Homo sapiens: one gene and its partner. The protein of the gene in region 2 interacts with the protein of the main gene of each other region in a biochemical or structural test. Each region holds a gene or a part of one and is shown on either strand. Other genes may lie near its edges. The genes, in order: MRC1 and PTPRC.

Region 1 (3,829 bases), on a different chromosome or scaffold from region 2:
GGCCAAGCCACCATGGTTTGGCTCTAATCTTCCTCTCTTGAAAATGGAATCATCAAAAAAGATAACACCTGATCTCCCAGTTTTCTGGGAGGAGCCGGGCCTGACTTGTCACCTGATGCCAAATTGCAAAACCTACCTAATATAATAGGTGGTCTTCACTGAGCCACCTACAAGAGTGAGATCTCTTTCTGTTTTTCCCATCTCTTTTGCAGATTGCCTGCGATGTACACCACATTCTGGTTGAATGTTCACTCAATAGTAAAATTCTTTTCTTTCTCATCTACCTTTATGGAGAGGTTTTCTGGGTGGGAAGGAGACTGGGTTTCTAACTACAAGTTCTCAACAACTTAAACCCTGCAAAAGGGAACCACTGTACCCAGGAAAAATACATCCAGCCCCTATATCATTGTTTATTAGAAAGGGAACAGTGACCTGTCTGCCCTCACCACCAACCACACCACCTTTCAGCTCCTCAAACTCTCCAGGCTCACTTCCACATTAGTGACTTCATGTTTTGAGTTCCCTCTTCTTGGGATGCTCACTAAGGTCACAGCTCAAGTGTCAACTTTCCTTTTCTTTCTTTCCTTGAGACAGACCCTTGCTATTTCACCCAGGCTGGAGTACAGTGGCGCCATCTTGGCTCACTGCAACCTCAGCCTCCTGATTTCAAACCATTCTCCTGCCTCAGCTCTGGGATTACAGGTGCATGTCACCACACCCACCTAATTTTTGTATTTTTAGTAGAGGTGGGGTTTCACCATGTTGGCCAAGCTGGTCTCGAACTCCTGACCTCAAGTGATCCGCACACCTCGGCCTCCCAACGTGTTGGGATTACAGGTGTGAGCCACTGCGCCCAGCCAAGTGTCAACATCGTAGCAGGCTGATCATCCTAACTCATTTTATTCTTTTATTTACCATATAATATCCATAACCATCTTAAAATATATTTTTCTTCAATTTGTTTACTAATGTTCTGTCCATAGTCCCCTACTGGAATGTAAATTTCATGAGACGAGGTACTTGATCTTTCTGATTTAGTGCTGCAGTCTCTTTTTGGGGAGCATAAATAATCTCTCAACAAATAATTAGTTGAATGAATGAAAGAATGTTTATTAAGCGGAAGCATCTTAACTAGTAACCCAGATAAATTATTTATCTAATGATAGATTAATGATTACAGGTATGCTGAATATTCATTTTTCCCCTGAAAGCTTATTTTTACTGAAGAGCAATTTAGAAATGTGTATACTTACAAAAAGGGTACTTGGAAATGAAAAGGTTCTGTTTCAATACACACTTATCTATTCTTGTTTCCTTTATTTATCTTTTGCCATTAGGAAGCAGTGTAAGTTTGATATTGCCTTTGCCAGACAATACAAGGAAATGTAAAATTATTGCTCTATGGTGATACATTCATCGTGCATTATTCTTCTCCCCAAGTAATCAGCATGTCATTTTGCCTTTATCATCATCTCTGCAACATGTCTGACTTAAAATGTCATACTTCTTCCTCTGAAGGCGTATTCAAGACGTTGGCCAAAAGGCAGCTTGTGGCATTTTTACCAATATTAACCACACCAACATTTATAAACATTCTATTTTTGTCCATACCAATTATGTTTTTGTAACAGAAATACGGCAAAGATGAACAGATCGACACAGTCGATCTGTTTTAATTTCTCTGCAATCTCTTTTGTAGGATCTAATATGTGAGTTTCTTTTTTTAATACTTACACATCAGAAATTTATATCCAGAATTGCAGTGATTCTCCTTCCATCCTAACTTGATCTTACTAATTTCACATTAATTTTTCAACAAATACTTGACAAACAATGACCACACGCCAGATGCTATGCTAATGACAATACAAAGACAAACAAAAGACATAAGTTTCCTGCCATGTTGAGCACACTCTCTGCTGTGGTTAACTCAAAGGCAAAAAGATCAAGGATCAAAATACATTTAGTAAAGAAGCAATAAGTTTCAACCCAATATCTCAGGTTAAAAATGATTAAAGACTAAACATCCAGTAACATGCAATAAGTTTCAACCCAATATCTCAGGTTAAAAATGATTAAAGACTAAACATCCAGTAACATAGGTGTGGATTTTCTTTCTTTTTTTTTTTTTTTTTTTTGAGACAGAGTCACTCTGTCGCCCAGGCTGGAGTGCAGTGGTGTGATCTCAACACGTTGCAACCTCCGCCTCCCAGGTTCAAGCGATTCTCGTGCCTCAGCCTCCTCAGGAGCTGGGACTATAGGCATGTGCCACCACACACCCAGCTAATTTTTGTATTTTTAGTAGAGATGAGGTTTCACCATGTTGGCCAGGCTGGTCTCGAACTCCTGATCTCAAGTGATCCACCTGCCCCGGCCTCCCAAAGTGCTGGGATTACAGGCATGAGCCACCGCGCCTGGCCTGGATTTTTTTTAAGCATTTTTAAAATTATGCCGCAACATTGAACAAGTCATTAAATTCCCAAGCCTACTAGCAAAGAAAATTTGGTTATTAAAGGTGATTGTTCAGGGAGATAAGTATGATATGCTACATTTTCTTATACATTTTTAGATTTTCCTGACTATCAGCAAATAAAATGCTGACATTGGAACACAAAAGACAATAACTTCTGGAAGACAGAGAAGCCAGATAAGAGGAAAAGCAGCAAGTAGCTGTAGCAGATGCCTCCAGATTTATACTATTTCTCCTCGGCCTTCGCTGTTTAGGTGCATGCAGGCCCCACTCCCAAACGCCAGCACCACGCCTTTTGCCCTGGGGGCTTTTTCTGGCTATCAGAGCCCTCTAGGCTCAAACATGGCACAAATTAGATGGGTCAGAAAACGAATGCCCTGTAGGAGGAAGCCTTCATCAGAGGCCAAGGAGAACCGCTGACGGCTCTAAATCTCTTGTACCTTGGATGTGATGAGTCCAAGGCAACCATTCCACACCGTCGCCCAGAGCTCCTACACTCCATTGCCCACAGCGGTCACTGGGTGTCCACACACCTTCCCTTTCTGTCTCACTTCCCCGTTACCCTGTCAGTGTTTCCTGGGCTCACTTCCCAAATAAACTAACTTGCCCTCAAACCAGAGTGCAATTGTCTGAGGACAGCTTCTTGGGGAATCCAAACTAAGAAATATGTTCACCAGCCTCAGTTAAATAAATGTACCTATGTTTTCCCCAAAGACCCCAAATTCAGTGAAAAACAAATATTTACCCTGCACCTAGTACATTCAAGAAGCTATGCCAGGTGCTGGGGGCTGATGGAGGGTGTTAGTCAGTCTTAGGCTTAGAAATGTTGAACAGGAGGCCAAGGCAGGCGGATCACCTGAGGTCAGGAGTTCGAGATCAGCCTGGCCAACATGGTGGAACCGCGTCTCTACTAAAAATACAAAAATTAGCCTATGTGGTCGCACATGCCCGTAATCCCAGCTATGGGGGGCTGAGGCAGGAGAATCTCTTGAACCCACAAGGCGGAGGTTGCAGTGAGCCAAGATCGTGCCACTGCACTGTAGCCTGGGCGACAGAGTGAGACACCATCTCAAAAAAAAAAAGAAAAGAAAAAGAAATGAAATGTTGAACAAAAGAAAAAAAAACAGAGAATTACTTCATTTGTCACTTTGATCCTTCATTCAGACCCAAAATATTCAGGGAAACTACTGATTTAGGTCATTGCAACTGGCCATTTGGAAAAGTACATAATATGAACCCAGTATGGGTCTGACCACAAGGACAAAACAGAGGCCAAGAAACTCTTCCAACTTCCCTCCTACCACCTTAAAGATATGAATATCTACACCTTCCCGGGGCCATTCGCTCCCAAGTCAGTAG
Region 2 (3,829 bases):
TGCAAAGTTAAAAGAATTCAAAGGCCTATAAGGGATTATGCCTCTATCACTTAACCTTAAACTATCCCTTTATCTGCTCACAGTGTCTGAAAGGAAGAGATATCATTTGGAATCAAGTTTATGCTAAAAGGCTATGTGCTCTGATTTCATGGGCTCACATGAAAAAATTTACTTCTCAGAGTATCACATAATTTCAAAGCATTTTCACAAATATTATAACTTTTAATGCTTACAACACTTTATAGATGAGGAAATTGGGTCTCAAGGGTGAAAATTGATTTAGCTAAAAATCACAAGATTCATAGAGTTAGATTTTCAAAATATTTATCACTACAGATGTCATGATGTTTCCCAGCTTGGAGTGGTTTCTGCCTCATTTTCTATTATGCTTAATATGTTTTATCAGTAAATTATTATATTTTTCATCAAGTGGATGTGTTTAAAATATAGTGGCCACACTGTATTGCCATGATATTTATTGTGATTTTGATATTGTCTCTTAGCATCATTGTTATTTGTATAGGTTTCTCTAAACTATCTCTTGAATGACCACAGACAAATTGTACTTTAATTTAAAATGCAGAGAATGTCTTCTTGTCTATCAGTGATTTCTATCAAGTTTGCTATACCAGCTGTTCATATCCTAATACGTATGAGTGTGTTACCTGAGTTACCCTCAACTTTTGCCTTCTACTCCTACATTAGCAAATCCCTATTTTGGAGGGTGGATGGTTTTCTTCCAGGTATGCAAATTTTGATTATATTCTTAAATAAATGAATGATGATCATTTATACTTCAATATAATTGCATTGTAATTACAGTTTTATAATAAATACCCTGTATAGTAGAAACTGAAGTTTCAGTTAGGTGGCTTTTTCCTTTCAGACACTTGACTCATTTTTAGAGGAAATAAATATTGAATCTTTAAATACTATAGAGTTAAGCACCATAGAATATATTTGTTTAAGCTCGGTCTCTACTAAAATCTCTAATAAAAACTGATAATTTTGCTGATTGTCTGTTAAGAAATCAATCAATTGAAGGTACTATGAATGGATATAGAAGATGCTTGTTTACTTCACTAATATTGACTTTATGTGTATTTATTCTTGTCCTAGATGAAAGAGTAGGAAAGCTTTTGTTTCTCTATTTGTTCTTGTTTTTTGTTGTGATTCCTGAACATATAATTCTCTGCTTATAGTAGTCATTCCTAGACTCTTTTAACAGACTGATATTGAAGTAGCACACTGACATACAAACAGGAATGAAGATTAAATATTTTAGACAATAATTAGATATTTTCTAATATAAATATTGGTTAGAGCCAGGTACACAAAATCCAGTGATTGCCATAATTTTTATTCCTGTATATTTGGGTATTATATAGAAATAGGCATCAAATCATATTGCTAAAGTCTTGCCATATTTTTTTTCTGGTGTATCATATCTTAAAAAGTGAGGTCTTTATGTATGCAAAAGTCATAGCACTAAGCCTTTGGTAAAAGGCCACTGCTATGGGATTGAGTATCTAGTACTTACAAAGATATTTAGACTAGACAGAAATTAATTTTAAACTGAAGATATGTTAAATTTCCATTCTAATTGTTTCCCATGTAAATAACTACATAAATCTATAAGATGTCTAGAAAAAAAAATCAAAGGTCAGCACTGATGAAAAATTTCTCTCTCTGCACCAAGGTGACATATACACACATGGTCTGAAGATGAAACCTTGCCTTTGTGAACATTGTGTATTTACCAAGAGAATGAATCAACCTCAGTACAAATCTCTGCCCCTTACCTACTCAGATTGACATTCATCACCACACTGTCTGTAAAGAAATTATTCCCAGCTCTCTACAAACTTTTGTCGTGCAAATAATGCAACACCTAGGGTGCACCATATTCCATCTGCCCTTGCAAGCAATCCCAGAGCACTAGCATCAGTGTTCAAACCAGCAATTGCCATGACTGGACCTGATCTGTTTGTGTTATCACTCCGCTACATTTGTATTTCCCTCCCATTCCTTGCTTTTTCTCCTATGGGTATGTGTATCTGAAAAATAAAATTGACCCTCCAAATTACATTACCTAGAATGTCCAAAGAGCAGATCAAAGAAAATTTAGGAAAAACATTCTCAAACTATGAACTTTTAGGAAGTCAGGAGGCTCTTTCCAGACGAGAGGTGAGATAAGGAGAGTAAGAAAGGGAGCAAAGAAAAAACAAACAAACAAACAAACAAAAACAAAAAGGCAAGACTGTAAACATCTAGATCCAAAATCAACTTAATTTAATCTGGACAAAATAGTCCTGCTGTCTTCATCCTCCCACTTCGCCTCTGGTTAATTTTTTTATCTCATATTCTCCCTCTTTTTGACTTCCCTCTTTGAAAATTTTCCTTTCCTTTGTCACTACAATATGCAGTTTTATTTTTTTAATCTATGATTTATTCAGTGTCTGGTGAAAAATTAGGTATGGGAACTATGAGTTTATGCCTTTTGTGTCTCCTATACCTGATTTCATGTAGGTTACAATGTCAAGAAATCCACTAATTCACATGTCATCATCATCATCAATCATCATCACAAAAAAGAGCAGATTGAAATGACTTGAAAAATGCCAAGAAAAGGTGATAAAAAGTGTGCAATTCAATGGAAATATTTTGTGGCAAAAGTGACATAAGAGAACATAATAGAAGAAGTAGGATTTGCCCAGAACCTTAAACACCTTGAGAAAGTATAGAGGTGGGTGTTAAAACTACCTCCTGTTTGTTTTCTTTTAATCAATCATAGAAGAAAAAGAAAGAAAAAAGAAAGAAAGAAAGAAAGAAAGAAAGAAAGAAAGAAAGAAAGAAAGAAAGAAAGAAAGAAAGGAAGAAAGAAAGAAAAGAAAAAAGATCCCTTCCCAGCTCCAGGCCTAGCCCCCAGATCATTAGTGGAACCAGTTTCTCTGGCAAAAAAGATTAGAATTTATACCAAAGGCAATGAGAAGAAATCAGTAACCCTTCACTTTTTATTTTACTTTTTAAGCTGTAGATTACATTAAAAAAAGGATGAGACTTCAGACTGATTAAAAAAACTATTACAATTTTACAGGTGAGAAATAATAAAGCCATGAATTAAGATGATGGCAATGGAGGTGTCAAAGCAAGAAGTTATTAGAGATTATTACAAAGCAAAATTTCAGGACTTGGGGAGCATGTTAATGTCTGGATTTAGGAAAGGTAGTAAGTTCCGTGTTTCTGAGGGATGAGTCTAGAGATGGAGAATCAGAGTGATCAACACATAGTAGGCAATGATACGTAACCAAATGGAGAAAAGAGAACACAGGCGAAGGTCTGAAGTTCATGGGAACGCCAAATAGACAAACATGGAGAACTGATAGATAGATAGATAGATAGATAGATAGACAGATAGATAGATTGACTAGTATATATAACCCACAAATATATAACTAGTTTATGTGTGAGTATCTACATAAAGAAATATATGTTCAAGTATATGAACAATGTAGAAACATCTATATTTCTATACTGGTTAATTGTCACTGGTGAGAGGATAGCAAATAGTCCAGAACAAAGAAAGAACTAAGTTCAAGCTAACTACTCTGCCCCTATACTTACTTACACAGAACAAAAGAGAAAAAGATAATATAGGCCCTAGCCGTAGTCTTTCCTGTAACAAAGTACATTTCAAACTTTAGCAATGATAAAGGTCACAGGCAGGTTTTTAGTAGGACATTTTTTTTCAAATTAATAAGTAATTCTAATCACATTCCCAAATCTCTAAATTATGGAGTATTTAGAACTTAATAGGACTGCTTACCAA

The links.
Region 1: the proteins of PTPRC (region 2) and MRC1 form a complex in vitro, tested with the Homo sapiens proteins (one large-scale study listed by IntAct).

The regions. Positions count from the first base shown.
Region 1 is NC_000010.11:17,815,557-17,819,385, reverse strand, and holds part of MRC1 (macrophage mannose receptor 1 precursor), read right to left. Parts: intron 1-3,829. UniProt on the Homo sapiens protein: Mediates the endocytosis of glycoproteins by macrophages.
Region 2 is NC_000001.11:198,641,953-198,645,781, reverse strand, and holds part of PTPRC (receptor-type tyrosine-protein phosphatase C isoform 1 precursor), read right to left. Parts: intron 1-3,829. UniProt on the Homo sapiens protein: Protein tyrosine-protein phosphatase required for T-cell activation through the antigen receptor. Acts as a positive regulator of T-cell coactivation upon binding to DPP4.